Linked DNA regions of Homo sapiens. The protein of the gene in region 1 purifies or fractionates together with the protein of each later gene. This does not show direct contact. Each region holds a gene or a part of one and is shown on either strand. Other genes may lie near its edges.

Region 1 (4,026 bases):
TTTAGGTTTACCATTTTATATTTGATTTCTGTGTATTAAGCTCTGCTTTCCATTTCTTTATTCCTCTTTCCAGCTTTCTTTTGGGATAGTTGAACATTTTTTAAATATTCCATTTTTATTTATCTGTTATATTTTGACTATATCTCTTTGTTTTGTTTCAGTTTTGTTTCTCTGCTTATTTGTTTTAGTGGTTGCTCTAAGGATTACAGTAAACATATTTAATGTTTAAAAATCTACTTTTAATCAATGTTGTACGACTTGAAGTGGGACATATAGACCTTACAGGAATATACAGGAATCAAATAAACAAAAGAAGTGCAAACTTATACTCTGAAAACAACAAGCATTATTGAAAGAAATTTTGAAAGCTCTAAGTAAATGGGAAGACATCCTATGCTTATGGATTGCAAGATTTAATATTGTTAAGATAACTATACTACCAAAAATATTCTACAGATTCAATGCAGTCCCCATTAAAATTCCAGTTGCCTATTTTGCAGAACTTGACAAGCTTCTAATAAAATCCACGTCAAAATGCCTGGAATGCAGGATAGCCAAAATAGTTTTTACAAAGGAGAAAAAAGTTGGAGGACTCGCACTTCCCAACTTCAAAACTTATTACAAAGTTATAATGATAAAGACAGTGTGGTACTAACATATGGATAGACATAAAGATCACTAGAACAGAACCAAGAGACCAGAAATAAACTCTCACCTTTATGTACAACTGATTTTCAACAAGCATGCTAAGACAATTTATTGTGAAAAGAATCATCTCTTCAAATGGTGCTGGGACAACTAGATATCCACATGCTAAAGAATAAAGTTAGATCCCTATCTCACACCATATTCAAAAATTAACTCAAAATGGATGAAAGACCTAAATGTAAGGCTTAATTCTATAAAATGTTAGAAGAAAACATAGACATAAATCTTTGTGACCTTGGATTAGGAAATGATTTCTTATGTAAGATACCAAAACACAAGCAATAAAATAAAAATAAATAAATTGAACTCTAAAAAAAAAAGGAAGTTATCTATTCAAAATCAACATCTAAATATGTCTTTTATAAAATCACTAACTGGTATCCTCTAATCTCTCACTAGAAATTTTAGTAATATGCAATGCATTTTGAATGTATTTATATTCCCTTGTTAACACAGAAAATGCATAAAATGCAATAGACCAGATTAATACAACATGGCATAGTTAAGCCTTTTAAGATGCTAGGGATATCTAAAGCTGAGTTTTTTTCTGGCAATCATTAGGCAAAATCCTTAACATATTTTTGTAATGCCTCTGACTCCTTCCCAGTGTGTTTCTAACTTCTTTGATAAAACCAGGACAATTGATCATTTTGTTTGAGACATAAACACAGTAAGTGTCACTTAAGGTCAATGTTGGTTGGTGGTCTTCAGCCATATTTTACTTCTCATTAAAGCAGCCAGACCGAAAATTGTGTCCAGAGGTGGTGTTTAGTGAGTCTGGTTTAGGAGTAAGGAAGGCTTTAAGAACCAAGCTGCTTCTGTCTGTGCATATGATCTTTATGTCTCCAGAAATATTCAGAAATTCCTGTCGATTATAGCAATATCTACAGTTCAAAGGAGAATTCAAACCACAAGCTATTCTAACATCTGTTTTGGTTTTATGGTCAATCTGAATAGTTGTAATTTACATTCACTGGCACCACACAATGAGGTTATTTTCAAACTACCGTACTGTGTTAAAAAATTTCCTTGGACTTAGATCGTGAGCCAAGTCTTAACTATCCATACCAACAAAGAAGAAAATTCTAAGAATTATCAATAACTAGTTTAAAACTCACCTGAAACCATGGTCTTAACCTCTTTGCTACCAGTCTTTATGGCAGACTTCTATTGCAGTTCATTACTAGCTTAAGGCTTCATCAGAGAAACTCATAAGAAGGCAGAGAAAAGACAATATTAAGGGTAGAAGAGAAGCAGAGGGCGTGGATACAGGGTTAATTACACCCCTAATTGAGAAAGAGAATAGCTCAGGAATTATTGCTAAATGGAAACAAGATGCATCATGTACTCAGACCACCCAATAGTTAGAGTAAATCATTTGTGAATGGGGCCGCCTATTCTATAACCTCAGTTAGGTATTTCGTTAGACAGATATTCTTTATCCCTGTGATGGACCTTGTCAGCCCTCCCAGTCCTCTGTCCAATGCTGCCTACATCAGCCAGATACCACCAACTGCCTTTTCCTCACTAGAGGACTCAAACCAGCTTCCTGTGTACTAAATTCTGCAATACAGGAAAAGTAACAAGCTCAGAAGCAGGAATAGAAAATTGCTACATGATATAAAAAATAATGGTTACCATTTGCACATCACTGAGAACGTGTCTGGACTTGTGCAATGTCCTTTGCCATATGCAATCTCACGTTCTTCTTTCAAAACTCTCTGAGAGGTACTGTGTTTTTCCTATTTTGGAGATGTTCTGAGGCACATCGATTATTTGTGTGACACTGAGCAAGTTTCTTACTCACTGATGGGGTTGGAGTTCAAAGCCAGGTTTACCTAACCTCAAAGGGCAGACCCTCCACTATGTTGTCTTCTCTCTCTCTGCATTTTCCTCACCACTTACTTCAGAATCCGGGAGGACTTGACTCTTGCCACCTTGCTGTGGCCTGTGCTTCCTCCTGGGTGTGAGAGTCTGCTACTGCTCACCCTCTTGTTGCTGACCCGTAGTGCTTCTCTGCTCCTCTCCCTGGCGTCCACCTCTCCCACTCCTGGTACCTGGGGCTAGGGTACCCCTAAACAGACTGTTGTATGAGTAACTGCCAGACAATTGTATTACCATCTTCTATTAGACACCGTTGACTGCAACACCTATCCTAATTTCAGAGAAGGTAAAATGTGAATAAAACAAAAACAAAAATAAATCACTGGAATTGATGAAATGCCACAGGGAGATCCCACATTTACAATAATAAGGCTTGTTCCATGAGAATTTCTTCTGAATAAGAAATTTAAAAGTCTTGACATGATTCCTTTAAAATTTTAAGTTCACATACTCCATTTCACAATACAAATTTATGATGGGGGATGGGGAATCAGAAAACATACCTAAAACTGGTGGTTCTCCTTTTGCTCTTACATCACTCACGTGCCGTGGCCTCAGAACTTACATCCTAAGCATATGTCATGGTAATGCTCAACAATAGGCTGTCTATGTCAATTTAAGATGCTGGTTGGTGTTCACTATAAACAAAAACACCAGGAAACACCTCCTTGAATAATATCAACATTTATTTTGATTTTGTGATTTTCTTTACAAATTTAGTGCAAAAAACTTTGCATCTGTTGCTTTATTTACAGGTTGATGATGCAAATTAGCTAATTCATGGAACATAAACCATGACATCTACACGTGTTCTTAAGTAAATTAACTAAAAAGTAAAATAAAAACATTAGAGTTGAAACTGACCCGTGGTTCTTATCCCAGTTACTATGGCAGGCCCTTGTTTATTTTTATTAACAGTTTGTCTGTGTCGGTGGGAGCCCCAACAGAATGAAAGCATTTGCACTGTTTATGCACAAGGAGCTCGGGTTTGAGGAAGCTGAAGAAGACATAAAAGACATCTGTGCTGGGACAGACAGATACTGTATGTACAAAACCGGGCCTGTGCTCGCCATCAGTGTAAGTATCCATGGTTGCATTTCAGCTAGTCATTGCAGGCTAGAGAAAAAAGTGGGAACTTTTACATGTAGGAGTTCTTTTTCCCTCCAGCTTCGCATTCTTACACAATCAAACAAGGTGTCCAGGTATGAGTTCATTATTGGAAAAAGCCCCCAGGGCAGAACACAGCATGCAGCATCATTTTTGTTTATTAGTTACCACTTAGGTATTCAAATTAGGGGGAAAATACTCAAAGCACCCCTCCTTTCTCTTTACTTTGTAACTGGTTAACACCCCTCACCCCCGCCACGGCAATTTTCCTTCTTCTATCCCTTACCCAGCTTTGGGAATGTTGAGCTTTTAGTACACAGAGGCTAA
Region 2 (3,500 bases), on another chromosome or scaffold:
CTGGCAGTCCCAGCGACTTAGGAGGCCAAGGTGGGAAGATCACTTGAACCCAGGAGGTCGAGGCTACAGTGAGCTATGATCATGCCACTGCACTCCAAGAGTGAAACCCCGTCTCCAACAAAAAAACCCCAAACAACCGAAACCCCCAAAACATATTTATCACTTAAGAATAGGATGCAGCAAAGTACAAAAAGCTTAGGCTGAAATCAGACAAAGGCGCGTACCCACCGTCGATCATAAAGCACACAGCCGCACTCATGGCCTGGGAAGACAGAACAAACCAGAGGTTATGAAATGGTGGAAAAAAGGAGACTTTCGTATAATAACAATCTGTTCAAAGTCAATGGGGAGAAGTCAACTGTAAGAAGCTGCTTTTTGGTCAACTAGAGCCATCTGGACACAGACTGCCCATTCCATGATGCGAGGGGAGTGCTGTTGACCTTGTCAGGTGTGACAGCGCCAGTGGGGAGGTTACCACGGATGTCCTCATCAGAGAGGCACAGGGAAGTGTTCGTGACTGACGTGATGACTTAAAATGCTCTTGCAAACCCGACAACACAACATGGAGAAGCAACGAAGACCAGAATCTTATTCACTTGTGTGATGGGGACTTAGGGGTTCACTGTTCTAATCTCTCTGTGTATAGTCCAGAGAGAATAGAGAATTGGCAGAAACTGTCCATTATTCTGTGACGATTTCCATTGACACACGTTTACAAAGACAGCAAATGGATATCATCCTGTCTCACTTTATTATAGCAAGTAATTACAGTTATGACATTAGACCTAGCAACCGACAACAACCAGGACCACAGATAACCAAAAATGTTTAAAAGTTATCAAAGCAATGTATGGTTAAGAGAGGCTGAGCAGAACACCAGGCCTGATGATGAAAGCCACAGATTTCGTTCTCTGACCCTCCTCCCCGGCAACCACTTTACACTGTCATTAGACAACAGCGTTATCCTAACTCTTCAACGTATCCTCTTTGGGCATCGTACTGACTTCCTGCTCATGTCATGACAGGTGTGACCCCTCGTCTGCCTTCCCCCTCCTCCTCTATGGTTTATAGCATTCTATTTCCTCCGCTGGCCGCCTTCCACCAGCCACAGCCTCCGCTCCTGAACTCACATTCCCACCTGCCCCAGTACCTCTTCCCACTTCCGAGAGCGAGATCCTGTCTCAAGAGAAGAAAGATCTCAAATCAGTGACCTGACCTTTCGTCTTAAGATCCTGGACAACAGGAGTCAACTAAACCTAAAGCAAGTGGGGCCGGGTGTGGTGGCTCATACCTGTAAGCCCAGCACTTTGGGAGGCCGAGGTGGGCGGATCACCTGAGGTCAGGAGTTTGAGACCAGCCTGGCTAACATGGCAAAACCCCATCTCTACTAAAAGTACAAAAAAATTAGCCGGGCGTGGTGGTGCGCCTATAATCCCAGCTACTCAGGAGGCTGCGGCAAGAGAATCATGTGAACCTGGGAGGCAGAGGTTGCAGTGAGCTGAGACTGTGCCACTGCACTCCAGCCTGGGTGACAGAGCAGGACTCCGTCTCAAAAAAAACAAAAACAAAAACAAAAAAACCCAAACAAACCTAAAGCAAATGGAAGGAAATAATAAAGCATGAGAGCAGAAACAAACTCAACAGAGAAAAATCACAGAGATAATAAATGAAACCAAAAGTTGTTCTCTGAAAAGACCCAACATTGAAAAACTTTTCCTTTTTCTTGTGAAGATTCCAGAAGTATGAAGAACCTTTAGCTAGACTATACAACAAGAAACAAAGAGAGAAGACTCAAATTACTAAAACCAGGAATGAAAGAGGAGACATCACTACTGACTTTACAGGAAAAACGAAGGAGTATCCGGCTTTACCTACAATACCATGAAAAACCACGTGCCGACAAATCAAATAAATTAATTGAAGCTGACAAATTCCTAGAAAGACACAAACTACCAAAGCTGACTCAAGAAGAAACAAAATCAAAATAAACCTGTAACAAGTACAGAGATTAACCCATTTATGCTGGAGGTTGTAAATCTTTTTTGTGAAAAATGAGACCTTGGCAATGACCTTCAGCAGGATATAAATAACTCTCACAAGCTTAGTGTTCCAATAATGGAACACTGGGCATAAATGGTTAACTTTAAAATTTGCCACAAAGAAAAGCCCAGGTGCAGAGAGCTTGACTGTGAATTCTATGAAACATGTAAAGAGGAATTAACACCAATTTTTCACTGTCTTCCAAAAAAATAGGAGGGAACATTTCCCAACACATTTTATCAAGCCAGCATTGCCCAAAGATATCACAAGAAAACAAAACTACAGGCCAATATCCCTTACACCCAAGCCCGCACAGCACCCGCTCCACCTCTGGAGGGCTGGAGACTAAGGCTGGCCATGTGGGGCCAGCTGTGTCTCTGTGGCCAACCCCCAATCAGATCTCTGGATCTCGAGGCTCAGGTGAGCTTCCCTGGATGTCAACACTCCACAGACACAGCCACACATCCTCGATGGGGAAACACTCACTGGGCTGTCCACATGACCCCAACGGGAGAGGACAGCCGGAAGCTCACACCAGAGTGGGACTCCATCTCAAAAACCAAAAAACCAAAAAAAAAAAAAACAAAAAACAAAACAAAAACCCAAAAAACCAAACCAACCCAAACCAACCTAAAGCAAATAGAAGGACTCCTGGTCCTTCCATTGGTGGCTCCTGGGCCCTGCCCCACACGCCTCTTCCCCGGGCTGATTTTAACCTGTATTCTTCCACTGTAATAAACCGCAGCTGTGAGTGCCGCCATTCTTCCTTCCCCCTGGTTTTGTTTCCCATGGTTTCTGTTATGTGAGGGACAGTATAATAAAATATTGAGGGAAGGGGGAAGCAAACCGCATTCACATGACTTTTATTGCAGTAGAGTGTCATCGTCCAATTATGATTACTATTACTTGTTTTGAGATGGGGTCTCACTCTTGTCCAGGCTGGAGTGCAGTGGCACGATCTTGGCTCACTGCAACCTCCGCCTCCCAGGTTCAAGAGATTCTCCTGACTCAGCCTCCTGAGTAACTTGGATTACATGTGCATGCCACCATGCCTGGCTAATTTTTCTATCTATAGTAGAGGCAGGGTTTCACCACACTGGCCAGGCTGGTCTCAAGTTCCTGGCCTCAAGTGATCTGCCTGCCTCGGCCTCCCAAAGTGCTGGGATTACAGGTGTGAGCCACTGCGCCCAGCCTTATTAATCGCTTACTGTACTGAATTTATAAACATTATCACAGGCATGTATGTACAGGAAAAAACACAGCAAGTGAAGGGTTTGGTACTGTCCCCGGTTTCAGGCACCTCCCGGGGGTTTTGGAACACATGGCCTTTGGCTCGGGGGTACTGCTGTAGAAAGCCTTTTCTGAGTCCTGTAGTACTTCTAGAGAACTCTTACCCTAAAGGTGGTCACGGGGACTCCCAAACTCGCAGTGGGTGTCAGAAGTGAGGATGGTCTTGGAGA

The links. The genes of interacting proteins can lie anywhere in the genome.
Region 2: the proteins of UPP2 (region 1) and CCZ1B purify together in Homo sapiens (co-immunoprecipitation; one large-scale study listed by IntAct). This does not show direct contact.

The regions. Positions count from the first base shown.
Region 1 is NC_000002.12:158,111,591-158,115,616, forward strand, and holds part of UPP2 (uridine phosphorylase 2), read left to right. Parts: intron 1-3,510; coding exon 3,511-3,669; intron 3,670-4,026. UniProt on the Homo sapiens protein: Catalyzes the reversible phosphorylytic cleavage of uridine to uracil and ribose-1-phosphate which can then be utilized as carbon and energy sources or in the rescue of pyrimidine bases for nucleotide synthesis.
Region 2 is NC_000007.14:6,805,776-6,809,275, forward strand, and holds part of CCZ1B (vacuolar fusion protein CCZ1 homolog B), read right to left. Parts: intron 263-3,500; coding exon 229-262; intron 1-228.